4 separate regions of the Homo sapiens genome follow, and all the other regions are reported to be linked to region 2. Evidence: microRNA targets listed by miRTarBase, many of them from high-throughput screens and not tested one by one. Region 2 holds a microRNA gene; each other region holds the end of a gene's coding sequence.
What was found. Region 2 holds the annotated microRNA hsa-miR-548az-5p (CAAAAGUGAUUGUGGUUUUUGC, at 2,875-2,896, shown strand). A microRNA usually pairs through its seed, bases 2 to 8, with sites in the 3' UTR of a target mRNA and lowers its output. Matches are read on the target gene's strand: a 7mer-m8 pairs with bases 2 to 8, a 7mer-A1 pairs with bases 2 to 7 and ends in A, and an 8mer does both.

Region 1: the mRNA of PPP1R3F is a reported target of hsa-miR-548az-5p. Seed matches in the 3' UTR shown: 7mer-A1 at 5,985-5,991.
Region 3: miRTarBase lists PACRGL as a target of hsa-miR-548az-5p. Seed matches in the 3' UTR shown: 7mer-m8 at 5,474-5,480, 8mer at 5,352-5,359 and 7mer-A1 at 2,626-2,632.
Region 4: the mRNA of GPR176 is a reported target of hsa-miR-548az-5p. Seed matches in the 3' UTR shown: 7mer-A1 at 4,233-4,239.

The regions. Positions count from the first base shown.
Region 1 is chrX:49,286,154-49,293,277 of GRCh38, reverse strand. PPP1R3F (protein phosphatase 1 regulatory subunit 3F) reads right to left here. Exons shown (of 4, transcript NM_033215.5): 4 at 5,188-7,124. The coding sequence ends at 6,188. Among named protein-coding and RNA genes, the nearest start is that of GAGE10, 14 kb to the left of the region's middle. RefSeq lists an enhancer at 1,254-1,303.
Region 2 is chr8:119,322,316-119,329,439 of GRCh38, forward strand. It overlaps MIR548AZ (microRNA 548az), which reads left to right and starts at 2,856; the gene lies at 2,856-2,950.
Region 3 is chr4:20,726,034-20,733,137 of GRCh38, reverse strand. PACRGL (parkin coregulated like) reads right to left here. Exons shown (of 9, transcript NM_001258345.3): 9 at 581-5,853. The coding sequence ends at 5,797. It overlaps KCNIP4 (potassium voltage-gated channel interacting protein 4), which reads left to right. Exons shown (of 9, transcript NM_025221.6): 7 at 353-457; 8 at 1,070-1,132; 9 at 3,009-4,532. The coding sequence ends at 3,056. Among named protein-coding and RNA genes, the nearest start is that of PACRGL, 29 kb to the right of the region's middle.
Region 4 is chr15:39,795,037-39,802,160 of GRCh38, forward strand. It overlaps GPR176 (G protein-coupled receptor 176), which reads right to left. Exons shown (of 3, transcript NM_007223.3): 3 at 3,972-7,124. The coding sequence ends at 6,096. Among named protein-coding and RNA genes, the nearest start is that of FSIP1, 16 kb to the left of the region's middle.

The sequences.
Region 1 (7,124 bases), not on the chromosome of region 2:
AGTCGTTATTTGGATAAATTATCCAAGTGTTAACCTGGTGGCTGTTGTGATGATGACACATGGCTGTAATGACTGCATGTGGGTCACAGTAACTCACATGAGCTCACTGTGAGCTCTTGGAGCATCTTGGGGCTCCCCGTGGGCAGAGATGAGGACCAACAGGAAAGAATAGTGGCACAGTGGCTGGCCACCCCAGAACACTACAGAGACAACCTCACCTGGTCCCCAGCCCACGGTTCTGCTCACAGACTCAGAACTTCCCCCACCTGACTGTCCTGAGCACTTTGAGGAAGGCAGCCCCGGCCATGCCTGAGGTGGCCGCATCCATCCTTCCCCACCAACCCTGACCTGCTCCTCCTCCTCTTGAGCCAAATCTACTTTCTCAACGCCTCGGCTCCCCTCCATTCACGAGCATCCCCTGCACGTTGGGGGTGTAATGATGCCCATTGCACAGGTGAGGAGACTGAGCCCCATAGAGGGCAGCAGCTGGGCCTGCAGCTGCACAGCAGTGTCAGTGGGCCTGTGCTAGGTGGGGCGTGCCTCACCCCACAGCTGTGCATCCCTCAAGCCATACAGAGATTGTCTCCTGCCTCCTCTTTCGAGGGATCCTCCCGGCCCGTGTCTCCCCCAGACCACCAGGCCTGGAGCTTCTAGACCCGGCGTTCAGGCCCTGGGAGAGGACTGGGTGGAGGCGGAGCTGGCAGCTGGCCAGGATCTGGCTGGGGGGTTGGTGGCCTTTTCCTGAGCCCCAGGCTCTGTTGGGGCTGTCTCCAGTGTCTTCAGGATCCAGGCTGGTGCCCTCAGCCAACCTGGCCAACCTGGCCAACCTGGCCAATCTATAGCCTGACCTGCCCTGGGCACAGGCCTCAGAGCCAGTGCATCTTGTGGAAAAATCCTATAATGGACCCTTTAAGTGAGATAAAGAGGATTAAAAATATGAGAACCTCTCTTTAGTGATGGAAATGAGTTCCTGGTAGAAGGAAAAAGAGGAAGAGGAGGAGGAGGAGAGTCATCTGTAGAAGACCCCGAACAACAGTAAAAGCCAGGCCCTCGGCTGCCCCCACCTGTCCACATGCAGAGAGGGAGGCTCCAAGGGACACCCAGCCTGGAGCTCATGCACCCTGAGGCCTGTGACCCTACAAGCAGTTAACGTTTAAGACTGTTCCCGTCTTCTCTGAGGCTTTCCCTGTCTTGGAGATAAGATGCCCCCTGCTGGCAAAGGCAGGTATCACTGTAGGGTGGCCGTCCATGGCTGCGCTGTTGGAGACACCAAGACCTCACCGTGGGACCAGACGCTTTAGTCAGGCTTCCCTGACTGAAAGGAAAAAGTCACTTTGACTTAGCAGGAAGCTCAGGTTTGGACTTGGTCTCATCCTGGACAAAAAACACTGAAGAGGGGAAGCAGAGGGGTTGTAGGATGCGGGTGGGTGATAGCAGGGCTGAAGGCTGAGGACAGAGAGAGAAGGGGCCACTGTGAGACTAAGATGCTGGCCCTAGTCACAAGGAGGAGGGAGAGGTGGACCAGGAAGGCCTCGGCAAAGGGCTGAGCTCAGGGCTGATAAGAACATGGAAGGCCCTCACCTGTAAATGGGTGATAAAAATAGAGTTTATCTAGTAACTGACCACTAAAATTTTAAAAAAGAAAAGTAGGGCCAGTCGTGGTGGCTCATACCTGTAATCCTAGCACTTTGGGAGGCTGAGGCGGGTGGATCACCTGAGGTCAGGAGTTCGAGACCAGCCTGGCCAACATGGTGAAACCCTGTCTCTACTAAAAACACAAAAACTAGTCGGGCATGGTGGTGCATGCCTGTAATCCTAGCTACTCAGAAGGCTGAGGCAGGAGAATCTCTTGAACCCAGGGGGCAGAGGTTACAGTGAGCTGAGAATGTGCCACTTCACTCCAGCCTGGGAGAAAGAGCGAGACTCCGTCAAGAAAGAAAGGAGAGAGACAGAGAGAGAGAGAGAGAGAGAGAGAGAGAGAGAGAGAGAAAAGTAGGCTGGACGTGCTCATGCCTGTAATCCCAAAACTTTGGGAGGCTGAGGCAGGTGGATTGCTTGAGCTGAGGAGCTCGAGACCAGCCTGGGCAACATGGCAAAACCCTGTCTCTAGTAAAAATATAAAAATTAGCTGGGCATGGTGGCATGTGCCTGTAGTCCCAGCTACTCGGGAGGCTGAGGTCGGAGGATCACTTGAACCCAGGAGGTTGAGGCTGCAGTGAGCCGTGATTGTGCCACTGCACTCCAGCTTGGGTGACAGAACAAGATTGCGTCTCAATTTTAAAAGACAGATGTACAAACTTATCAATGTAATTCACCACATTAACAGATTAATGGGAGAGGGCAGGGTGGGGGCATAACAGTGATTGCAAGAGCTCCAGCCAGGGGGAATGACAACGGGCGTGTACTCAGTCTTGCCCTGTGCCTGGCACTGCTCAGTGACTGAAGAGTCATCTCACCTCTTCCTCACTTAACCCTGTGAGGAGGAAAAGTTATTACCCTGATGACAGACGAGCAAAGGGAGGCACAGAGGGCTGAAGCCACTTGCCCACTGTGTGACCCTGGGCAATTTAGTCCCAAACTGTGTCGCTCCAGCCCCTGTTCCTGTCCACCCTCCTACCCTGCCTTGACTATAAGACCTGTCTAACATGGGCTCAGGAGGAGGGCAGTACAACGTTTTCCCCAAAGCCTGCACCTACCCTGCTTGATGGGCATTAGCCCCCTTTATGAATGGGGAACTGAGGCTGGTCTAGGACGGGTGACTTGCCCAAGGTCACACCACCAGGGCTCGGGGTTCCAGGCTTTTATGAGGCCCACCAGGCCCCAAAGCCCATGTGTCCTGGGCTATTGTGGGTGTGAATGAGGCCTGAGGGGAGATGGACCCCAACATCTGAGGACAATATGGGCAGGTCCTGTCCATCCCAAGAGGCCCCACTCTATGGCTGGTGTCAGGGGCACACGATAGAGGATTCCCCACTAGTCGATCTCCACAAACAGAAGGCAAGACCCGGAGCCCAGGGATTGTTCTGCAGGAAGGAGGCCGCCTACACTGTGGTTCACACCAGGAGGCTGGAGTCTCTGCAAGCCTGTGTGCAGGAGTCTCGGACACTCATGCTACTCCCACTTCCCACTGCACTCTGCTTCACTTGTGAGGTCTTTGCATAAGAGTGTATAAAACCTAAATGTATGGGGGGGGTTGTTTTGTTTTTTTGAGACAAGAGTCTCGCTCTGTTGCCCAGACTAGAGTGCAGTGGTGCGATCTCGGCCCACTGCAACCTCCACCTCCTGGGTTCTAGTGATTCTCCCGCCTCAGCCTCCCAAGTAGCTGGGATTACAGGCGCCCACCACCACGCCCGGCTAATTTTTATACTTTTAGTACAGACGGGGTTTCCCCACATTGGCCAGGCTGGTCTCGAACTCCTGACCTCAAGTGATATGCCTGCCTCAGCCTCCCAAAGTGCTGGGATTATAGGTGTGAGCCACCGCGCCCAGCCCATAAGTCTGTTTTAATGATGATGAATAAATTGCACATCCATGAACAGTCTCCCAGGTCAAGCAGTGAACCATTATTGACATCCCAGAAGTCCTCTGGGCCCCTTCTCAGCCACATCCCTCCCTCTGCCAGAGGTGAACACTATCCTGACTCTGGTAATCAGCCCCTCGCTTTTCTTTACAATGTCACCATTTAGGTGGTAATTCATGAGTTTTGCCTGCTTGTGAACTTTGCATAAATGGATCAGTGTGGAAGCTTTTTTTTGGCTTTTTGTGATTCATCTGTATGCTTTCGTGCAGTTATGGATCTTCCATTCTCATTATACAATATTCCATTCTGCGAATATACCACAATTTATTTAGATGCTTATTGGCATCTAAGGTTTGAGCCCTTCATCAGTTATATGTGATTCCATTATCTCCTCCCAATTTTTCACTTGTGTTTTCACTCCTTTTTGTTTTGCTTTTATTCATAGCAACCTACTACATAAGGTTTTCACTCTCTTTATGGTGTCTTTTGATCAATGGACATTCCTAATTTTAAGGTCACTGAATGTTTCGTAATTTTCATTTATGGTTGTTTCTGTGTCGTGATGAAGAAAAACTTTGCTACCATGAGTATACGAAGGTGTTTTGCCTTGTTTTTTGTTTTGTTTTGTTTTTGAGATGGAGTCTCGATCTGTGGCCCAGGCTGGAGTGCAGTGGTGCCATCTCGGCTCACTGCAACCTCTGCCCCCTGAGTTCAAACGATTGTCCCGCCTCAGCCTCCCAAACAGCTGGGACTACAGGTGGATGCCCAGCTAATTTTTGTATTTTTAGTAGAGACGGGGTTTCACCATGTTGGCCAGGCTGGTGGTCTCAAACTCCTGATCCGCCCATCTAGACCTCCCAAAGTGCTGGGATTACAAGAGTGAGCCACAGCACCCGGCCCTGCCTCATTGTATTCTTAAAGCGCTTTGGTTTTGCCCTTCGCATTTAGGCTTTAAACCCACTTAGAATTATTTTTATTTGTGTTGTAAAGTAGGGATCCAAGTTCATATTTTTCAATGCGGGTAACCAATTGTTCTATTTATTCAAAATCCAATCATTTCCCCACTGGTCTAACACACTTCCTTGGTCACCAGTTCTGTGTCTACACGAGTGTGTCTACACTGTTTCCGAGATCACTGTTTTTTTATTGGTCGATTTGTCTACTCTTGCAAAAATATCGTGCCATCTGAATATACCATTACAATAAGTATCAGTGTCCTGGCTAGTCTTGGCACTTCTACATAAATTTAAGAATTAATGTGTCATGATCTACACACAGGCAAAACTCTATTGGAATTGTGGTTGGATTTGCATTGAACCTACAAAGCAGTTTCAAGAGAACTGACAGCTTTGCACAGTGGCCAGTGAGGAAGAAGGGAAATGAGGAGAGTGTGGTATCTTGGAAACCAAGTGAAGAAAGGGTTGCAAGGTAGAGATGATCAACTATGTCAAATGCTGCCAATATCCCAAGTAAGATGACATCTGAGACTTAACCATGGCTATAACAATGTGAATATCTTCAGCAGTTTTGCTGAAATGGTTGGGCAAAAAAGATCTGATTGGGGCTATTTCAGAAAGGCATCATAGAAGAACTGAAGAAAGCTCGTATAGATATTTCTTCCAATAGGTTTTGCTGTAAAGGGAAGTAAATAAATATGTGGTGTTTTATTTTGTTGAGCAGTTTTTTATTTGCATGCAATAAATATATATCTTTCTTTCAAAGCTTCTGGGCTTCCTGTTTTTAGTAGAAATGTGATGTCTGTGGACAGCAACTGTGCTACCAAGTACTGCAGTACATTAACTCCTCTTTCCTTTCTGAGGCCTTCCTTATCTCAGGGACTAAGGGGTCTCCCTGCTGGTGTCAAAGGCTGTTTTTTCAGTAACCTCAAAACCTTGTGGCTGATTCACAACTGATGTCCCCACATCCACAGGAGACCACAGCTACCACTGCAACCATGTGACTGACACCAAACCCTCATGTGGCTGCCACTCTTCCTCCCTGGCTCCCACCACCACCATCCAAATACACACCTGTAGGGTCCCACAGGCAGAATGTGGAAAAGACAAAGAACCATATGGATTAGGACCACGAGACGAGGAGACACACATCTTCAAGGAAAGACATGTTGAAGCAGCAGCAGGCGACCACGTCCCACCCCCAACTCCCCACTGTGATCCTCCCACAGAAAGTGACCACCCTGCACACTCATGCCCAAACAGGAGAACACTACACCGCAAGACACTGTTTCTCATAGAGCTCTATTGTGGCATATAATAATAGGTACTCTATATAAATTAAATTAAAAATAAAGCTCCAGCAGGTTGCACAGGTTGGCTGTTAATAAATATATCTCTGGGTAATTGTGCCCCAAGACCAGCTCACGACCACTCTCCCTCATCCAGAGAATTATACAAAAATAAATACAGGCTCGGGGGGTAGGCGGAGGACATGCCCAGTTCCACTCTAAAAGTTCCCCTCACTCACACCATCTACCCGTTCCCTCATCTCCACTGGTGTCACCACAGGGAGCCCTGTGTTGACTGGAGAGCTTGGGGATGAGAAGGCCTCTCTTTCAGTTGAGCATTCTCAGAAGCAAAGGACCCAGGTCCCCTCACTGCACAGGCCATGTATCCCATCTTAAGCCTCTGCTGATCCCACAAGCAGAGCCTATGAGAACCAAGCCAGAGAGAGGCACAGCGCAAGCACCAGGAGGGACACACCGCTGTTCAGAGCCACAGGGACCACCACTAGCCCGGCCAGGACCCCCAGAGTCTGGGTCAAGGGCCCCCGGAGCTGAGGAGGCAGTGCACACACACATTCTGCAGGGACTGCTAGGGTGGGAGACTTCTTTGGGGGTTCAAGGCTTGGGCCTGCATCCTTTTCATCCTGGGAGCTCACATGAGGCCTGGCTACACTAGAGAGACAGACTTCGGCCCCCAAGGGACTGAGGAGGGTGGGATTTTGCCCCTGCAGAAGGACGGGAGAGGCTGGCTCCTTGCCAGATATGGGATCCAAGCTGCCTGCCCACTCACTGGTGACCTCTATCTGGGCTTCTGTCCCGGCCTCCCCCAGGGACTCAGTCACCCCAGCTATCACCCTATTCATGTGCAAAGAGCTGGTGTCCTTGCCCATCCCTTTCTCAGGATCCCCAATGAACTGACCCTCTGTACCCAGAACCACAGGGCCGTCACATCCTGAGCCCTCTGCCCATGGGAGCCACACATCTCCCATCGTGGCTACCACAGAACGGGCCCCGGAGAGGATTTCTGGAGGCGATTCCTTGGGGCTGTCCCCTTCTGGGCTGGAGGGTGTGACAGAGAGCCCCTCTTCACCCTCCCCTTCATCATCAGGGTCTTCGGTGTCCTTGATGAGCTCCACGCCACGCCCCAGCCGGGCATAGTGCAGCGTGATCTCCTCAGCCAGGGCGCTGTTCAGGGCCCGCTCAGGGCCAGGCCACTTCAAGATCAGGTCGCGGTCCGTCAGTATGCCCAGGGGATGGCTGGGGGACATCCCTCCATCTGTGGAGCCCTCCCCACCACCCCCTGCCCCACCCGCAGCCACAGCAGCCCGTAGGCGGCTCAGGTGAGACAGGTAGAGCTGCTCC
Region 2 (7,124 bases):
TGATGAGCACCTAAGCTGATTCCATGTCTTTGCTATTGTAAGCAGTATGGTGATGAACATTCCTTAGGCTATATAACTACCCAGTAGATAGCATAGTAGCCAATAGTTTTTTAGCCCACAACCCCCCATCCTTCTCTAGTAATCCACAGTGTCTATTATTCCCATGTTTACATCCATCTGTGCTCAATGTTTAGCTTCCACTTATAAGTGAGAATATGTGGTATTGGTTTTCTGTTCCTGATTAATTCGCTTAAGATTATGGCCTCCAGCTCCAACCATGTTGCTGCAAAGGCATGATTTCATTTTTTTATTGCTGTGTAGTATTCCATGAGATATATATATCATATATATATGTGATATATATATATATATCAAATGTGATATATATGTGATATATATATATATCACATGTGATATACATATATTTTCTTTATCCAGCCCACCACTCATGGGCACCTAGGTTGATTCCATGTCTTTGCTATTGTGAATAGTATGGTGAACACATGAGTGCATGTCTCTTTTTGGTAGAATGACCTGTATTCCTTAAGAGTATATACCCAGTAATAGGATTACTGGGTCAAATAGTAGTTCTAAGTTCTTCGAGAAATCACCAAACTGCTTTCCACAGTGGCTAAACTAACTTACATTCCCACTAACTGTGTCTAAGTGTAACCTTTTCTCCACAGCCTCATCAGCACATGCTGTTTTTTGACTTTTTAATGATAGCTGTTCTGACTGGTGTGAGATGGTATCTCATGGTTTTGCTTTGTATTTCTCTCATGATTAGTGATGGTGAGCATTTTTTCATGTTTGTTGGCCACTTGTCTTCTATTGAGAAGTGTCTGTTCACGTTCTTTGTCTATTTTTAAATAGGGTTATTTGGTTTTTGCTTGTTGATTTGTTTAAATTCCTTATAGACTGGATATTAGACCTTTGTCAGATGCATGGCTTGGGAATATTATCTCCCATTCTATATGTTGTCTGTTTACTCAGTTGATGGTTTCTTTTTCTGTGGAGAGCTCTTCAGTTTAATTAGGTCCCACTTAACAATTTTTGTTTTTGCTGCAATTGCTTTTGGGGACTTGGCCATAAATTCTTTGCCAAGGCTGATGTCAAGAGGGTATTCCCTAGGTTTTCTTCTGGGATTTTTATAGTTTGAGGTCTTACATTAAAATCTTTAACCCATTTGTAGCTGATTTGTGTATATGATGAAAGGGTCCAGTTTCATTCTTCTGCATATGATTAGACAGTTATCCTAGCACCATTTATTGAATACGGAGTCCTTCCCCAATTTATTGTTTTTGTCAGCCTTAGAAGACTGCCTATATTTCTAATTGATTACTCCTAATGGGTTTCAACTTAGCCAGAAGGATATTTCCAAAAATCAGATCAATCTTATTATAACTCTAAACCTGGCATCTGACTTCTCTCAGTGTAGACCAAGTAACAACACCAGACATAAGGAAACAGTGTGTATTAGGTGATTCAACCATAACACCTCACTATCACTAATACAGCATAAGCAAAGACATCCCACTCCTCTACCATCTCCCCCTTCATACTACATAGACATCCACACATGCACACACGTACACACATTCACACCCCCCCACCCACAACATGCACACACCCCTTTACATCATCATCAATACAACAGGCACTGGGAAAAAGATAAAGAGAGGGAGAAAGCCAACAACACATCCAACCCTATCCATATCGACACATAAACCCTGTTCAATACGTATACTATACAGAAGCCCTGCACAAGCTTTTAAAAAAGGAAAGTTTTACTACCCCAAATTAAGACTATTTTTAATCAGAAGTAAATAAAAAGTTATTTGTCAAACTGAGATATCACTGTTTCTTGTTGCCCAGCAGGGAAGGAATTCAACAAAGCAAACCTGGCAACAGTTATTGAAAAAAAAAATAGAATTGTCTTACATTCACAAACCATTAACTTGAAACTTCTTCATCAAAACTTTTATTTGTGCAAAGGCCTAGAGGTAAGAATAATCATGATTTATTCAGAGAAAGAAAGAAAATTTCAGAATGTTTGGAGCAGAGAAAACAAGAGAGAAGGAAAAAAGATGGGATTGAGTGGCTAAATGAAGGCAGTTTATAAATAACCCCCAAAGTATTATTCTAAATGTAATGGGGGATGATATTTAATCAGGATAATGCTATGATCTGACTGGATTTTTGGAACCATCCCTCTGGCTCCAATAGAAACATTTTTGGAAGTAATGAATTCAAAATACGGAAGACCAGAAAGGAAGGTGTTTTGAGACTAAAGACAAAAGATGATTGCCTGAACTATGATAATAACAAAAGATGAAGGTAAGCAAAAAATAAAAGGAGAGCCATTTTATCAAATAGAAACACAAGGCTTGATAACTGATTACATATAAAAAGTAAATGAGAAAAGGGCAAGTCATGGAAAATTATTGGGTATTTGGCTTTTATAATTAGGTAGATGGTGGTAATTTCACTGATAAAAAGGACACTAAAGGGGGATATTTATAGGATTTTATGTGGTGATATCTACTAGGTGACTAACAAATTAGATCTGAAGCTCTGGAGAAATATCTTGGCTGAAGATATAGATTTGAGAATCATGATTGAAATTATATAATTGAATTTGTGAGTATGAAAAATATAATCCTCAAAGAGAGGCTACGTGAAGCAAAAAAATAAAAATTCTATCTAGGCTAGAATCTGGAAGAAAATTCATATACAAGAGATTAGCAGAAAGCAGGGAAATTCAAAACAAACTGGGAAAAAGCAGAGTAATTAGAGAAAGTTTAAAAAATGTAATAATAATAGGGAAAAATATTTCACAAAGTAGGGAATATTCAAGATTGTATTAGGTTGGTGCAAAAGTGATTGTGGTTTTTGCTGTTACTTTTAATGGCAAAAACTGCAATCACTTTTGCACCAACCTAATAAATTTGCTGCACAGAGATCAAGTCAGTTGAGGATCAGTTAAAGAAATTATTGGTGACTCTGGCAAGAGCACTTTCAGTGGTGTAGCATGGGACTGGTCTATCAAAACTGCCATCTTATAATCATTCATATAAAACAACTAACCAATAATAAGAATATGGAAGACAGACTCGGCCTGTGTGCTTTGGCAACTTTAAGTTCCTTTGGTACTGCATATGCTGATCAACAAAGTAAATGATATTGAAGGTGTTGAGAGTATGGATACTATGCAATAAGAAATTACCCACAACACAAATGTACCAGAATTTGATTTGACGTGGAAATTTTACAAAATTTGTTTTGGGATTCAAGCTTGCTCTTTGGAAGAATAGTGAAAGACTTACTTATCATCTCCGGAACTCTAAACTTGCTGATGATCAAGGATGAGACAACCAAAATTATTATCACCATAAAAATATTAGTTAGAAGGATTGCATATCATTCAAAGTGTAGTATTACTACCTAAACATTCACTTTCAAATATATTCAAAATTGACTTGGAGTAAAAATTAATATCCATATATGCTTTATATGTTGCAATTCTTCCCAGAAAATCTTATCTTAGGGTCCATTTCACCATCAATATTTACAATGGCAGAGCTCAAAACAGAATAGCTTGCTCCTCCTTTGATCTAAATTGAAAGTGAGAGTCTACTGTATTGGGATTACACAGGTTTAGTGTATTGACCTCCACTGAGAAGGCTGGGAAATCATTGTGTTGTACAGTAATGTCAAATTATACACTTTGACTTTGAGCATTTTTAATGACAAAATTAAAATAAAATGTGGAAATTTTAATATTTATTCTTTTTTCCCAGAAGTTCATGCCATGAAGTGATATTCATCTTCAACTTCAACTTAGGCTGAATATTGACTTTAACCCTTGGCTAGACATTCAGCTAAAATGTGTAATTTCGTGGACCCTACCCAACAGTGTTTCATGGGCTTTTTTAGAAGGGTCTGCAATGTAGCATGCTTGCACAACAGTAAGTAATCAAAAAGCAAGATTCTTGACAAGAAAGTTAATGTGTTTAATTAACATATTAAGCAATCTACAGTAGCCTGAAATGTGTTAATGAAAATCATCTGGGGGAAAAATAAAAGGAAGCCCAGAAAAAGTCCATATGCCTAGCTGATGTGCTAGTTAATTCTACTCAAGGAAGGTTTTCTGTGAAGATTAGTGTAGCAAGAAACAAATCCCTCTGAATTCATGACACGATGCATGCCAAAAGAATAAGGAATTTGGGATTATAAAAATGCCTTATGGTGTGGTTATAGGTACAGGAGAGAGAGCAAAGATAACTAACAACACAAGATTGAGAGAGGATAAATAAGGCAGAGCCCTAGGAGGGATTGGCCTTGGGTAAGAGAGGTCACTTCCTTTCTGGTAACTGATATGAAAGAGATAGGATATCCTTGGCTTTGATCTTTGTTCTGTTTTGCTTCCCTTTGAGGATTGAATTAATTTGAAGCTGAGCTTCTGTCTTTTTTGAGTTTGTCTGTTTCCAGTTTACCCACACAACTCTGGTGTAGCTTTGAAAGATTCAAATTCTAATTCCTATTCTTCTAGTCCCATGATTAAGCCAAAATCTCTGTTCAGCTCTTCAGCCTCTCTGCTGCTTTCAAATTTACAAATGCCCTGAAAGAAAAGCGATGCCTAATGTCATGCTCTCTGCCCTTTCTTTCTCCCTGGAATCTTGAATTCACAAATCTTGGCAGCCTCAGTAAGATCTCAGATATCTTCAAACGATTTGTTGTTTTCTTTTCTTTCCCCTTTATTCAGCTATTTTGGTTGTTCTCAGAGAGAGGTTTGATCCAATACAGCTAGTTGGTTATCTGTCTAACTGTATTTTTTTCTACATTACATATTATCTCCATACACCTCCTTATCTTTCATATCAAAAGATTTTAATCTGTGATCATGTACACTTTAAAAAATAACCCACAAAACTCGTATGAGAGATTCTAAATATAGTGAGATTCTCTCCCTACATTTTTTTCCCTTTGTCCTCATGCATTGATAGTCACTGGTTCAGACACTCTTTTCAGGAAGCAAACTGGGACCGGAACTTTGGCAAGGGCTGAGTAAATAACCTCCCCAATCACTATAGCCTTCTCTTTAGACTCTACAGGTTCATCTGTGAATCACAGATGCCATCTGAGAGTCATTATTAAAGTCAGGATTTAAAAGAGTCTGTAAAATGTAGAATTATTTCACTACATAATTTATTTGTTCTGTTTCCCAAAAATTTCAAAGAGAAGTTTATCATTTCCCTGTATAACTTATACATTGACTTATTAAACTCAGTTTTTTTCTAGGAAGTAAAATAGAAATTCTTTTATTTGTATAAAACACATGCCTGGTATTACCAAGTCTGAAAGCACCTGGCATCTTACTGGTGGTGACTTCCAATGCAATCCGTCTATTGTTCTGAAAGGAAGAACAGTTTCAGGTTATCCTACAGGAGGCAGGGCGAGGTGGCTCACGCCTGTAATACCAGCACTTTGGGAGGCCAAGGCAGGTAAATCACCTGAGGTCAGGAGTTCGAGATCAGCCTGGCCAACATGGTGAAGCTCCATCTCTGCTAAAAACTACAAAAATTAGCTGGACGTGGTGGCCCATGCCTGTAATCCCAGCTACTCAGGAGGCTGAGGCTGGAAAATCACTTGAACCCGGGAGGAGGAGATTGCAGTGAGCTGAGATTGCAACACTGCACTCCAGCCTAGGCAACAGAGCGAGACTGCATCAAAAAAAAATAATAATAAAAGTTTACTGTATAGGAAAACAATGTTTTCCACTAAAAGATAATTGTAATTTCTAGCTTTCCAAATTTTTCTCTGAACAAACATTTTTTAAAAAGAATTATTGGAGAATTATATGAGAAATCAAATACTCCTACTTTTGAGAAAATCACATACTTTGAGAAAATCCCTTTAAACTTTATCAAAAATACTTTTACTCTCCTGAATTCTATACCTGGAAATGTCCTGTCTTAAAAGAAGCAGCTAAGGACAAAGTAAAGTGAAGTAATCATTCCTTTAAAGAACTGTGCTTTTCAGGGCAGGGTGGGGGTGGGGTCAGTTCAGCACATATATTATGATTAGTGTGTAAAATACCACCTGCTAAAATGAATCCTCAGAAAAGGCAGTCTGCATAAACACTTTTGTGGAGGTTTAAATTAGCCCTTTACAGCATTCAGGGAAGTGAGCCTACTTTTTTAAGAAAAAATAAATAAATAAATTTTATATATATACACACACACGTTACATTGACTTGAATTTTACAGTATGATATAGAGAAGACGTTTTTCAAGACACAGCCTGAAATACACTGCATCCATGAAAAATATCTGTGAAACTCACTTTCAAAATAATTCTCCTTTATTCATGAAACTGTATATTTCAAAGAAAATCTAGAAAAGGGTATGACTATAACTAGGACCATCTATCACTGGAAAATGTTTTTACTTTTAATATATGTAGAAAATCTCTATTTCCAAAATGCAAATAAAAACTACAATGAGATATCATCTCACCCTAGTTAAATGGCTTTAATCCAAAAGACAGGCAATAACAAATGTCAAGGACGTGGAGAAAAGGAAACCCTTGAACACTTTGGATGGGGTTGTAAATGAGTACAACCACTATGGAGAACAGTTTGGCGTTTCCTCAAAAAACTAAAAATAGAGTTACCATATGATCCAGCAATCCCACTCCTAGTTATATATCCAAAAGAAAGAAAATCAGTATATCTAAGAGATATCTGCACTTCCCTGTTTATTACCGTGCTATTCAAAATAGTCAAGAATTGGGAGCAACCTAAGTGTCTATCAACAGATAAATGGATAAAGAAATGTGGTACATATACACAAGGGAGTACTATTCAGCCATAAAAAAGAATGAGATCTTGTCACCTGCAACAACACAGATGGAACTGAGGTCATTATGTTAAGTAAAATAAACCAGACACAGAAAGACAAACTTCACATGTCCTCACTTATTTGTGGGAGTTAAAAATTAAAACAATTGAACTCATGTACATAGACAGTAGAAGGATGGTTACCAGAGGCTGGGAAGGGTGGGGCAGGGTGTGTGGAAAATGGGATTGGTTAATGGATACAAGAAAATAGAATAAGACTTAG
Region 3 (7,104 bases), not on the chromosome of region 2:
TCAACACATAAGATATATAATGCAATTAAATAAACATAGTCTACTTAAAGTCTATAGAAATCCAAACATTAAGCCAGCATATTCTTTTCCTGACTATGGTAGATACATGGAAATTTGCTTCCTTTTGAAACCAAGAGATCAGAATTCATTCTTAAATTCTGATTCTTCTGCTCTTAAGGCAGAAAGCTGTTTGTTGCCTTTTCCTTTGGGACAACCAACAGTCGTCTAACAAAGAATCCAACAAACAAAAAGTCAAAAATTTAAAATTGAGTAGGAAAAATCTGTCAGAGCTTCTTAGACTGGTTTCTTCATACATGTGTGCAGCCTCACGTGAGTGCCTTTTATTTTTCAGGAAATGCTTGATATAATGAAAGCAATATACGATATGATGGGTAAATGTACATATCCTGTCCTCAAAGAAGATGCTCCCAGACAACACGTTGAAACATTTTTTCAGGTAGGAATTAAAACAGAAGTCAAGAGGGCATGAAGTTAGGAGAAAATTTCCTGATGTTTGCCATGCACCACGATGATTCAAAAGAGAGCAAAGGAAAATAATTTTTACTGAAACAAAACAGTATTTAGCATCCTATTAATTTAATAGCTTTGGTTTTGAATTTACAATGCTGATAACTGCATTTATTGAACATTCACTAAATCCAAGATACAACACTAAACAGTTCTCATGTTTCACAAGTTTTGTTTTCATTCAGTTTTTACAAGAATCCTATAAATCCTCATTAATCTCATTTTACAGATGAGACAAAAAGCAAGCTCTGAAAGTTTCAGCAAATTGCGCAAGCTCTGTCACATCTAGAAGGTGGGATTTTACCTAGGACAGAGTGACTCTACATCTTCACCACATTATATTGAAAAGGGAAAAGCCAGAAGCATTTGGCCCTATCATTTTTATCTCTAAAAAACTGCTGGTTCCTGCTCTGAAACAGTTCCTCCACGTGAAATAAATAAGCAGCTAGGTTTTCTTTTTATCAGCTTCAGCTCATTTGGTCCAGGTGTGAGGGTATTAAGGGATAAGTCTAAATACAATTTTTGTTTTCTTCCTGAACAGAAAATGGACAAAAATAAAGATGGGGTTGTTACCATAGATGAGTTCATTGAAAGCTGCCAAAAAGTAAGTAATGAAAGTGTAATAACTATCAATTCAGCTATCATAACAGCTAAACTGAGTATTAGCAGCTAGCTACCATGAACTGGGCGAAATATAGAGATCATATGCCTAAGTTTACCACTTCTACAACATGCAGCATAAGCCTACCACTCTGAAAACAAGCACCAATTACATAATCAACATTTAGAGTGCCCACTGAGTCAGGCTATGGAGGAAACCCTGGGGATACAAAAGTTGTACATGTACTGTGTTGATTCCCAAATTCCTTAGAGAGTATTCATGGAGGATAAAACATACATGAGATTTGAATTGCTCTTTGCCAAAACTTAGCATCACTCATATATTATCTATCATATCTCCACAGCATTAGAATTCCTAGATAGCCAAGTATGGCATCACAACAGGCCAAGCTTCTATCTGATTTCTAAGAGAAAAGTCATTGTTTTAGTGTATGTGGACAAGAAATGGCTCTTTGACTGAACTCACTAATGGTCTTCAGTCACAAAAAATAAACAGTGGAAAATTTTCTCTGAAGAGAACTCCAGGTAGTAGCCTGTTATCAAAGAAACCAGTGTTAGCTTACTTAGAATTATTTGACTTGATGTGTGGGCAGAACCACAGTTAAAAATTGTTAAGGCCTGGTACAGTAGCTCACAACTGTAATCCCAGCACTATGGGAGGCTGAGGCGGGAAGATAACTTAAGGCCAGGATTTTGAGTCCAATGTGGGCAACATAGCAAGACCCTATCTATCTCTACAAAAAAAAATTAAGTTAGCTGGGCACGGTGGCACGTGGCTGAAGTCTCAGCTACTTGGGAGGCTGAGGCAGGAAGATCACTTGATCCCTGTTGAGCCATGATTGTGCCACTGCACTCCAGAATGATGGGCAACAGAAATAGACTCTGCCTCAAAACTAAAAAAAGAAAAAAAGAATTTTTCAAATAATCCTGAAAACAAAGAAATCCGTTGTTTCTTTAGTTTTTCTCTTTATTTTTAAATTGTTGTTCTTACTTTTCTGGATGTCTGCTTGTCTCTCAACTTGGATTTCCATGCAGTGGTCTTTGAGAGAATTAATTTGGTGACATTAAGCTGCTTGACGGTGATGTTACTTGGTTTCTAGCAGTGGAAGCCATTATTGGTTCAGCCACCATTTACCACTACCATAAACAGCTCAGTAAGTGCTATTCACATGCAACTGACAAGTGCTCCAATAATGCCCAAAGTCTGTCCCCTAACTCATTTCTAAAGAATATGCTAAACTGAACACAGCCACTGAGCAGTGGTTTCTGCTCCCCAATTCTTTCTCTGTAATTGAGAGACCATTCATTTTTAAAGGCTCCTTCAGGCCATGCAGCTTTAGCCATAACTAGCAGACAGAAAGAGAGATGATTACTGCAAACATGTTACCTCTTAATCCACCACCCTGCCTCCTATGCGCCAGCCTCCAATCTTCATGAACTGCTGGCTCATACACACAAATTTTCCTTGTACCTGTATAAAAGTCTGTGTGATTTGGCCTGTGATCTACATAGAATGCCAAAATTCTCATTTGCTTTGACACACCTCTGCACCTCTGTAGTTTCCATTTTGGCATTATGATTTGAGAAATATCCTCTATTAATACCAAGTAAAGATTTAAATAAAGTGGTTTAATGCCTGGTCAATAGACTCCACAAAATATAAAATGGGTCCTTCATAGTCATCTATGTGGAAAATGGATAGAATAGAATGGCATTTACATTTGCAAACACTTAATATTTGAGCTTTTGGCATAGGTGGTTGAGGTGGTTGATGGGAGGAGGCAATACTCAGGGGCAAAATAGTGTACTTTTCCTTGCAGATATGCTGAATTTAATCGCTCTGTGTTTCTCCCTTACAGGATGAAAACATAATGCGCTCCATGCAGCTCTTTGAAAATGTGATTTAACTTGTCAAATAGATCCTGAATCCAACAGACAAATGTGAACTATTCTACCACCCTTAAAGTTGGAGCTACCACTTTTAGCATAGATTGCTCAGCTTGACACTGAAGCATATTATGCAAACAAGCTTTGTTTTAATATAAAGCAATCCCCAAAAGATTTGAGCTTTCAGTTATAAATTTGCATCCTTTTCATAATGCCACTGAGTTCAGGGGATGGTCTAACTCATTTCATACTCTGTGAATATTCAAAAGTAATAGAATCTGGCATATAGTTTTATTGGTTCCTTAGCCATGGGATTATTGAGGCTTTCACATATCAGTGATTTTAAAATATCAGTGTTTTTTGCTACTCATTTGTATGTATTCAGTCCTAGGATTTTGAATGGTTTTCTAATATAGTGACATCTGCATTTAATTTCCAGAAATTAAATTAATTTTCATGTTTGAATGCTGTAATTCCATTTAAATTCCATTTATATACTTTAAGGAAACAAGATTACAACAATTAAAAAAACACATAGTTCCAGTTTCTATGGCCTTCCCACCTTCTGTTAGAAATTAGTTTTATCTGGCATTTTTAAACATTTAAAAATTATTAAACATTTAAAAATTAGTTTATTATCAGATATCAGCATATGCCTAATAAAACTTATTTTAATAAGCATTTAATTTTCCATAATATGTTACAGCCAAGGCCTATATAATAATTTTGGATTTGTTCAATCTTTCTTACAGGCTGTTTTCTATTGTATCAATCATTAGTATCAATCATTAAGTGGAAGTTGAAGAAGGCATCAAACAAAACAAGGATGTTTACAGACATATGCAAAGGGTCAGGATATCTATCCTCCAGTATATAGTAATGCTTAATAACAAGTAATCCTAACAGCATTAAAGGCCAAATCTGTCCTCTTTCCCCTGACTTCCTTACAGCATGTTTATTTATATTACAAGCCATTCAGGGACAAAGAAAGAAACCTTGACTACCCCACTGTCTACTAAGAACAAACAGCAAGCAAAATTAGCAAGCAAAATTCACTTTGAAAGCACCAGTGGTTCCATTACATTGACAACTACTACCAAGATTTAGTAGAAAATAAGTGCTCAACAACTAATCCAGATTACAGTATGATTTAGCTCATCATAATTCAGATTATTTTTAATCATCTTAGCCAAAACTGTAAAGTTGCCACATTACTAAAGCCACACACATCGTCCCTGTTTTGTAGAAATATCACAAAGACCAAGAGGCTACAGAAGGAGGAAATTTGCAACTGTCTTTGCAACAATAAATCAGGTATCTATTCTGGTGTAGAGATAGGATGTTGAAAGCTGCCCTGCTATCACCAGTGTAGAAATTAAGAGTAGTACAATACATGTACACTGAAATTTGCCATCACGTGTTTGTGTAAACTCAATGTGCACATTTTGTATTTCAAAAAGAAAAAATAAAAGCAAAATAAAATGTTTATAACTCTACTGTCTATGTTACAGGTCTTTTCCAAGAAATTTTGTAATTAATTAAATCTTACAGTACTTTCTAGATGGCAGATAGCTCTGGATGGTGCTCAATGCAATGAAAACAGGTAAAAGCAAGGCCAGCAGGCAGGCAGCTGTTGTAGCCAGAGGGAATTGCTTCTATTACATCAAAATTCTGAACTATGTCTATATTATATTTTAAAAGCTTCTTAAAAATTGCTAAACATAAGCACAACAAAATCAATGAATGCATGTACAAGTTTTAACATTTTAATTGCTGAATATCTTTAAGTGAACATCAGTATTTTCTGGCTATGAAATGCAAAAATAACACATTTACTTAAATACAGTTAACACCTAAAATTTAGGTAGTTGTAATGAGTTGTAATAAACAACATACTTGTAATAGAATTTACAGAATTAGAAAAAATTTTTTAAACTAGAATACTCTGAAAATTTTCCAAGCATTGTACATTATAAAATACATATTTACAAATAATATTAGTAGTGTATTCATGGGGCCAGGCATGGTGGCTCACACCTGTAATCCCAGCACTTTGGAAGTCCACTGTGGGAGGATCACTCACCAGAATTCTGAGACCAGCCTGGACAACAGAGTGAGATCCCATCTCTACAAGCAAATTTCAAAATTAGCTGGGCATGGTGGCACACGCCTATAGTCCCAGCTAATCAGGAGGCTGAGATGAAAAGGATCATCTGAGCACAAAAATTTGAGGCTTGCGGTGAGCTATGATTATGCCACTGCACTCCAGTCTGGGCAACAAAGCAAGACCGCTTTTCTCTTTTAAAACAATTTTTTAAAAGTGTATTCACAAACATTTGTCCACTATTTTAAACTTCTATAGCCTTGTTAAACATTAAACCCAAGAAATGGCAAACTATCTATAAAAATAAGGGCACAGCTACAAACTGATTGCCAAAAAAGTGTTGTTATAAATAAAAAGACACTAGAAAATACAAATACATCTTATCTTGCAAACTCAATAATGGTTCTTCGCACAAATAATAAAAATACAAAAAATAAACCTCAAAATTGTACTCTTATAGAACTTATTTTAATAACTTTCCATTAGTAACTGTTCTTTTTTGTTGATGAATAACTTTGATTCAGTGTCTATTCATCTTAACCTAGTAAATAATGAATGGTGGCTGTGATTTACAAAAGAATAAAATAAATGAGTACCCACAGTTAGTGCTTGACACGTCAACAGGTAGAAAAAACAATTTTTGTTGGCTCCCTTCTTCAACAGCATATGGAGCAGTATGTTGGAATTTTAGATTTGATGATGCTAAGGCTCCCCTGTCAACAGAAAAAAATTGAGCATCATTAGTATCATGCAGAGTTCCCCTAATAGGTATTATATTTGCAGGAATATGCCTAGAAAGTATCTAAAACTCAAACAAAAAGGGGTAAGAACAAAATGATGAAATAAGAAGGACTTTTTGCTGAGTTAAATAAAATATAGGCTGTTTCTTTCTCTTTTTTTGAAGTATCTAACTAGAGAAGTAGTTAGAAGCCAGACTACCAGTATCTGAATTCAGCATCTACTAGTCACTTATTCGTCAAACCTGGACTAATTACTTTTCTGTGCCTAAGTTCCGTGATCTTTAGAGGGAGATAACAACAAAATCTCCCTCTGATGACTAGGAAGAGTAAATGGGTTTCATGTCTAAAAAGTACTCAGCAGAGTACCTGCCATGTAATAAGTTCCCACACAATCAATAAAGATCAGGATTTGCATTGTGCCTTTTCCAAAATAAATGTGCATTTCACTTAGAAAAAAAATCAAATCAGGCTAAGAATGAACTGATTTCAATTTAAGGCAGATCAGTTCTAAGAAAGTAACACTGTGACTATCTGTAACAGATATTTTCCTGTATCCAAAAGTTGAATAGTTCCATCATTGATATACACAAGTCCCAAGAAATGAGAAACCACAACTGAGAACACTCATTTTTAAAGACTTAATTTCTAATATTTTAAGAAAGAAAGAGATATATAAGCTTTTAAGGTCTTAGAAGAGAAAGAAGAACATTCATTAGTTTCATGAAGGATTACGAAGTAACAGAAATTAGCACAATAATAAGCCAAGAGAAAGTCTTTGGTATGTAATTGCAATAGGAAATTTTCTATTCCAATTACATCAATCATTATTAAAATATTATGTAGGATATAAGAAGGAGGAAACAAGAGGAGTCAGAAGAAAATAAATAATAACAGCCCTTGTAGCTACAAAATCTTTTTTAAAATTCTGTATTAGCAACATTCAAAGCTAGTAAGATGGAGTAGTAAAAAAAGAATTTGATATTTCTGGGATCCTGGATTACTCAACTACAGCTCTGTGTTCCCCTTCCAAATCTTAATGTGCCGTTTCTAAACTTTATTTACACATATACTATCTCCTCCTCCACACCCCCTCCACTCCCACCACAAAATCTAACATGCTTGGCCTGTCCCTTTCTACTTGTCCCATTTCCCATACCGGCCCACAGGATATGGAAAATCACCTAGGGAGCGTTTCCCACTGAAAAGCTGTGGCATCATTATTTA
Region 4 (7,124 bases), not on the chromosome of region 2:
TTTGACTCAAACTTGTGTGTACAACATGAAATTTATTGTCTCACATTAACTGGAAGTTCAAAGGTAGAGACATGTGACTTAGCAGCTGAGTGACATCATCAGGTACATGTTGCCCTGTCTGTACTGTGCTGTCCTCTTTGTCACCTTTATTCCAAGGCTGGCTCCCCTAACTGTCGTCATGATTTACTGTAGAGTCTGAACTTAGAATTGGTAACTAATCCAAGGAAGCTTCCTTTCTTGTTCCTTAACTGTAGCCCAGGGAGATCCTAGTACTCTACGGTTACTTTCAGATATTGAAGAGTCTGGTCCAGTTTTAAAGTTCACGATGATGCCTAATGTAATGCTCTTCCTCTCCCCCAACTCAGGCTTGATCTGTAGCCCAAGGAACTCACCATGAGTGGATGAGAATCCTCTCCTCCTATAGCTTGATGTTTCCTCTCGCGGGTCCCCCTTCTGCCTCCATGGAGTTAGGAGGAAGGATGGGCAAAAGGAGGAAACATCTTCTCCTTGATTGGTGCAGCCATTGTTCTCTCATTGGTACTTGGTGGGGAATCTCCAGAGGTGTGGCATGTGGCCCTCAGTGTACACATCTCTGGTGCCAGACACAGTGCCGGCCTGACCACTTTCAACCCCTCTCAGCATCCACCCACAGCCTCCTCCAAGTCTGGCCAGGGGCCAGTTTTCAAGTCGAGTTTCTGTGGTGTCTCCTTGACATTGAGAAAATCACCCATTCTCACCATGCCACATGATGGGTGTGCAGGATGCCCTCTCTGTTTACTCTGTCATCTCTCTCCAATTCCTTTCTCACACCTCCAAATTCAGAGGGCCGATCAGCAAGCCCATCCCTGAAGCAGATATCCAGCTGAGGAAAAGCAGCCAGGCTTGCATTTTTCCACCGAGCAGATGTCTCATGACCTACACAACTCTCTTTAAATTTCTTCTGTTTTCTCCATAAATAACCTGGGTTTGCATGGAGGACAGAGGTAAGGGTTGGGGAGATGGTCCCCCCCTCCTCAAACCACCTCAAACTTTTGGCTAACCCAGCGTGTCTCAACCTTAGCACTACTGATATTTTGGACCAGATAATTCTTTGTTGTGAGGGCTGTCCTGTGCATTAGAGGGTATTTAACAGCATTCCTGGCCTTTACCCAGTAGATGCCTGGAGCATGCCCCACTCCTTGACAATTACGACCAAAACTTCACTGGCCTAACCCCAAGAGTCCCCTCTGTTCTCCTAACACCTAGGTTTTGAGACCCAAATCTAGGAAGAGATTCAAAGGATATCTGCTTTCCCTTGAGGCAATGAAAGCCTCGTCCCCTCCCCTGAGGCAATGCATGTGAATGAGAGGGGCCAGGCAAAGAGAGAAGAGAAGTTAGATGCACAGGTAATATGGTTAATATAGCAAGAGCATCATGCCGTGTGTTCTATTTTCTCACCTGTTGCCTTAGAATGTATACCACGTGTTTATTCTAGTAACTCCTTTGTGTGTGTATTACATTTTGTATATGGACTGCAATGAATACACATATAAAGAGAAATTTAAGGGAGGCAGAAAGATTTCATCACTAAGTTCTGATCAACATAGCTGATGAATAATTATTCTTCAAGCCCAACACACATGCCTGGAACTGCGTTTCTCAGTATTGAACTTCCCCTCCAACTTTGGAACTTACACTCCTAGTGCATTAAAAGGAGGCTTGGGTATTTGAAGGAGATGGATCAAAGGCCTTGCGTTTGATGCCTTTTAACTCTGCAGGAGTCATTCCAAGGAAATCAATAAGAGCCAGCAATAACTCCACTGAAAGCAAATCTTTCATCACTCATACACGACAGAGACCGCACCCCTGCTCCAGGTGCTGTATCTCTTATGTATTCATTCACCATTCACTCATTTCAATCTGGCAATAAGAAGCCCCTGAATCCCCAGGACATGAAGTGCTATAGAGGTTCGCATAAACAATGCTGGAGATCACAGTTTCATTTCTATACAGGTTTCCAACCTTTATTCTACTGATCAACTGATACCTTTGGCACAAATGGGGGAAAACATGGGTTGAAACTGAGGCTAAGAAAAAGGGAGCTGTTTTATCTTCTGAAACCTCATGTATGGAGAATCTAAGCTCATTTCCATTTATTTTATACGTCTTGCACAAAAAGGCTTTTGATGCTGCCCTGGGCATTGATACTTATTTCAATTCCTATTTTATTCACAGATTCCCAGGTTATTTACCATGACTCATTTCTCTTTTGGTTACAGAGCTCTAATGTGGCACACTAGTTGGGATACAAATCTGCTAAATATTTACAACTATTTGGGGAAAGTGCATCACTATGTTATGGTATTATTGACACTGTATGTTGAGACGTTGGTACACTACACTATGAAAGCATTAACCCTTTCCCTCCACCACAATTCCGCCCGTAATAAGCTTTTTTCCTTGTGCATCTCTGATCCAACCTGTAGCAGCAGCTCCATATGCACAGAGCCACCTCACCTCGGGCAGGTCTGCCAAGAGCTCAGCAGTACCCAGCTGGGATGCAGCAGTGGCTTTCCTCCTCAGATGAATCAGACTGGTGCTTGAGCTCCAGATGTTCATTTAGCCCACCAACTAACTTGCAGTTTCTTTCCTACAGATGGGGCCACTTTGGATTTGCATATCTGTCCTTAGATACTCTATGTACTCTACTCTGTTCTTACTTCGATACGGTCATTGAGTGCATTCATATTCAGATATGGCCTACACGTTAGTGGCCAAGGTGAACCTTCTTTTAACATCCTATTTTTTTCAACTGAGAATTGTCTAATTAAGAAATACTCTGGCTTACAGAGTTATTTTTTCTTCAGGGAATCTAATAGTCCCTTGGCATTATGTATTACCCCAAAGTATCATCATTATGAAAATTAATTACTGTTAGAATAACTGGGGAAAAGACCTACAGTTTTCTAAGAATATTCCGCATAAGCTGCCTAGCCACTTTATTTTTTTATGTAACGTATAAGTGCTAACACTGATATAGCTGTACTCTGTGCCAGGCATTGTGTTAAACAGATTATCTCATTTAATCCTAACAGGTGCTCTATGCCTCACTTGGACTCCCTGAAAACAGAGCTTGAGATGAGGGCTTTGTGCAGGTAGTATGTTTGGGAGGTGATCCTTGAGGCATGAATGAGGACTGCAGAAAGTGAGTCAGAGAAGGAGAAAGTAGAGTCAATATAAGGCTGCATTATTGAAGTGCCATGGTGGGCCACAGGGACTTAACTCTGTGTCAGTGACCTCTTGAGAACTGGACAGAGGCCTCCCACAATTGTCCAGCAGGACAGGAAGCAGGGGTATTTATCCAGTGGTTCCCATGCCCCACAGGCCAAGGATTATTCCCAGACACAGGGAGCTCTGCTTGCAGGGAAGCGAGTAGATGCCGCCAGCAACAGCCCACTGCAGACACAGCTAAAGTCATAGGTGAAATATGTGAGAAGGGGCAACAGAAGCTTCTGACACAATTATTATCCTCCCATTTTACAGAGAGAGAACTGAGGTACATGGAGGTTACTTCATCCTCCCAAGGTCACAAGGCTAGTCAGTGTGGGGCCAGGATTTAAACACAGGCAATCTGACCTCAAAGCTCATGGCCCTAACTGCTGTGCTCCTGACCTCCCGCAGGAGGGATGATGACGGCTGCACTCCAGGCTTCCCTTGTGTAGCTCCGCCTAGAGATTTGGGTGTCTATCGCCAATTCAATCTGGAACCCATCTTGGTGATATTTTTTCAACTGTTGCAGTTCCTCCTTAGGGAATTTATTTTCTTTTAGTTGCAACAACACAAGAAAATGCTACTGAAATGCCACATCTGCATTCATGAGAAAAAAAAAATGAATATCTTTCATCAGAGACCATGTAGGAAGAGACAGGTTCCAACAGTATATCACTTGAGGGAGAGAAAAGGGGGAGAAAATATAGCTCATAAAACTTTTCTTGAGTTCAGAAACTGCTTTTCAATTTTTTATTAAAATGTTATTCTTCAAAGAGTATAGAAATACACCTGGCAATGACCTGTTAGTAGTCAGCCATCTGCTTCAAACATATATAAGAAACATACCCAACCAGATTCTGCCTCATCAAAATTTATTAAGTTGTACATATACAGTATATTATCAGAACAACACCAAAGTGGCTACACTTGACAGATTCTCCTAAAGTGGACATAATTTTCCTAGAGATTATTATTCCCCTTGATAAAAGTTGTAATGATTGTGAAAGCTTTGAAAGACAAGCTTGAAGGGCCACAGCATTGACTATCAGGGCAAGGAGCTATAGATGCCATGCACGCAGGGCCCAGAAGGCAGCAGAGCCGCAGGAGGCTGTGGCAGCCCCGTTTCTGCTGTGAGCAAACAGTGCTATGAGGAGACCAACACAAAGAGGAAGGTGCTTCCTCTCCAGGGGTAGGGTCTTTGGGTTCACATTCAGAAACACAAGACACCACACCCAAGAGAAGAAAGGAAAACAAAACTCCCTACAGGGTCTGGGCTCCCTCCAAGAGACGGGGCCAGTGTGGCCAAAAGAGGGCACGAGTTGAGATGTGGAAGTTTGCTGGTGAGGACACCCACTTCCCTTCAAGCTTGCTCAAGGCACCAGACTAGCTCCTGTAAGTACCAAGAGCAAGAACACAACACTCTAGAGAAAAGGGCAGAGCTGGCGCTTGGTTTGTCCTCACTAACAGGGAAGTATTATCTGCGGTTCTAATTCAACCTGGTGAAATCCACCCCAGAGGGGTCCCAAATTGCTTGTGAGGCTGATGAGTTGAGGACACTGCCCTCCCTCTTCTACCCAGTCTGGCTCTACAACGACAGGGAAGGAGGAAGTGAAGAGCTCATCTGGGTCAGATGTTGCCTTGGCACTCTACAATGATTATTTCTCCCTGTTCTGTTCCTCCTCTGTGTCCAAAATTAAGAGAGAACCGCAGCTGTACAAACAGACTGAAAAGGAGACTGGCCACACCTGAGTTCCGGAGTCTTCCTCGGAAGGAAACCATCTTTGTCAGATTCTTGCCAACCTTTTGGGCAGAGTCACCTTTCCAAATCAGGCCTTTTCAGTTTGATGTTTCCAAAGGACCCAGCTTACACTAACTCTCCATTTTAAAAATACCTTTTAATTCCTAAAGTTTGCATAAGATGATTTTTTCAATATATTTGACTCATACTGGTTGTTACATAGCACCTTTCATGTGAGATCATAGGGAAGAAAAAAAAACTACAGCGCCATAGGCATCTCTCAGGCATCTCCCCCGTAAGCTTCTCTCTCATTTGTTGAGAAAACACAATTTAAGGTGAAAGACAGAGCGAAGACTTTTCAGTGTTTTCCAGCCAACACTGACCCTGACTGGAGGGTGCAGGTGTATCTCTCTGAGGCGTTGGTGATGCCAAGGGAAAATCAGAATTATCAAGGACAAAATATCTCCCTTACTCCCGGGCACATCTATCGCCATGTGTACCATAGGTGAGGAATCGTCATTCCTTACCTACATCCCAATGAAAGGGACGAAGGGTATCAGGAGAAACAGTGAGTCATATGACTGGGGCTTCCAGAGAAACAGTGTAAGACACCAAATCCCTACCTTCTCAACAGAAAATGTTTGACATGTTTAAGTTCATCAAACAGGCATTTTCTCTGGAGCCACCATGCTCCATCATGATCTTGGAATTCCCTTAGAGTGCTCCTGCTCCCTGCTCCTGTGAGCTCTGAAAGTCTTCTCTCTGTGTGTTCTCTGCAGAGCCCAGGGAAGTGAGGCATCCTCAGAAAGTGCACATGGGGTACCCACCTCAAGACCCATTCAAAACTGCCCAGCTCTTGTCCCCACAGAGAATAATGTGGACTTCACTAAGGACATGGATCACTGAGATGGATACATATACTCCCTCAATAAAGAGGACACTGGATTTTATGTAGATTTCCCTATCATTCAAAAGCATCTGGCCCATATTGGAGGAATCAACTCACACTGAGTTGCAAGGAGATCATACAATCACATGGCCACAGCATTCCCACACTCTGGTGGGAATATGGAAGCTCCCCGTTGCTTCCAAGAATTTACAATCCTTGCTAGGAATCCACCTTTGGAAAAATGCTCACTTTATTGTTTCTGCTCATCTTCCGCTCCACCCTGCCTACCTTGGGCACCTTTGTCTGGATCAGCTCTTCTGGGGTGTTGCCCAAGGGGGGAAGCAGCCGCTTCTTGCTGTTTCGGGTCTCTGAGAGCCACTGAGGAGGCAACTCAAAAGGCCCAAAGCCAAACTGCAGGGAATACTTATCAGGGAATGTTTCAGGTTCCACAGGGGCTGCCGGTGCCACCTGGGATACAGAGTCCACTGTGCTCAGGGGTGGGGCAGAGGGCGCAAACTGTGGCCCCTGCTCTCCCTCCAGGCAGGTGCTAAATATCTCCTTGGCCTGGAAGTCAGCTGAGCCAATGTACTTGGCCTCACTCTCTTCCTCATCCTCTGTGGGCTTAAAGATCTGCTGCTGCCCAATGTGGAACATCTCCAGGAGCTGGCTACCCGAGCGTATGCTGGGTTCCAGGCTGGCCTCAGCCATGCCACTCCCTGTACTGACCACATTACGGCGACTGTACCGGTGGTGTAGTTGCACCAGGGTCCCTATCAAGCACTTGCGGACAGATTTGTTCACAGTAAGAAAGAGAACAGGGTTTGCCAGCAGGGAGACTTTGGGCAGCCAAACAGCAGTGAGCAGCAAGAAGACGGAAGTGTCAGGGACATTGAGCACAGTCTGGTAGACGACCAGGGTGGCATAGGGCACGCTACACAAGATGAAGACCATCACCATGGAGAGCAGGGTGGCGTGCAGCTCGGCCTCCCGCTGGGAGGCATAGGGAATAGAGATGGTGTTCTGTGGGGTCCGGAGCGCTGCTATGATGACCTTCTTCTTCTGGCTGGCACTCAGGGCCCGTCGGATCAGTATCAAGAAGAGGAACACCACCACCACAGGCACAATGACCGTGGTGATGTTATACACCAGAACGTACACCAGGTGGCCCAAGGAGTTGCTCCAGACTTCCGTGCAGGTGGACGTGGCATAGATGTCAGCCACATTGGTTACTGCAAACACAGGGACACT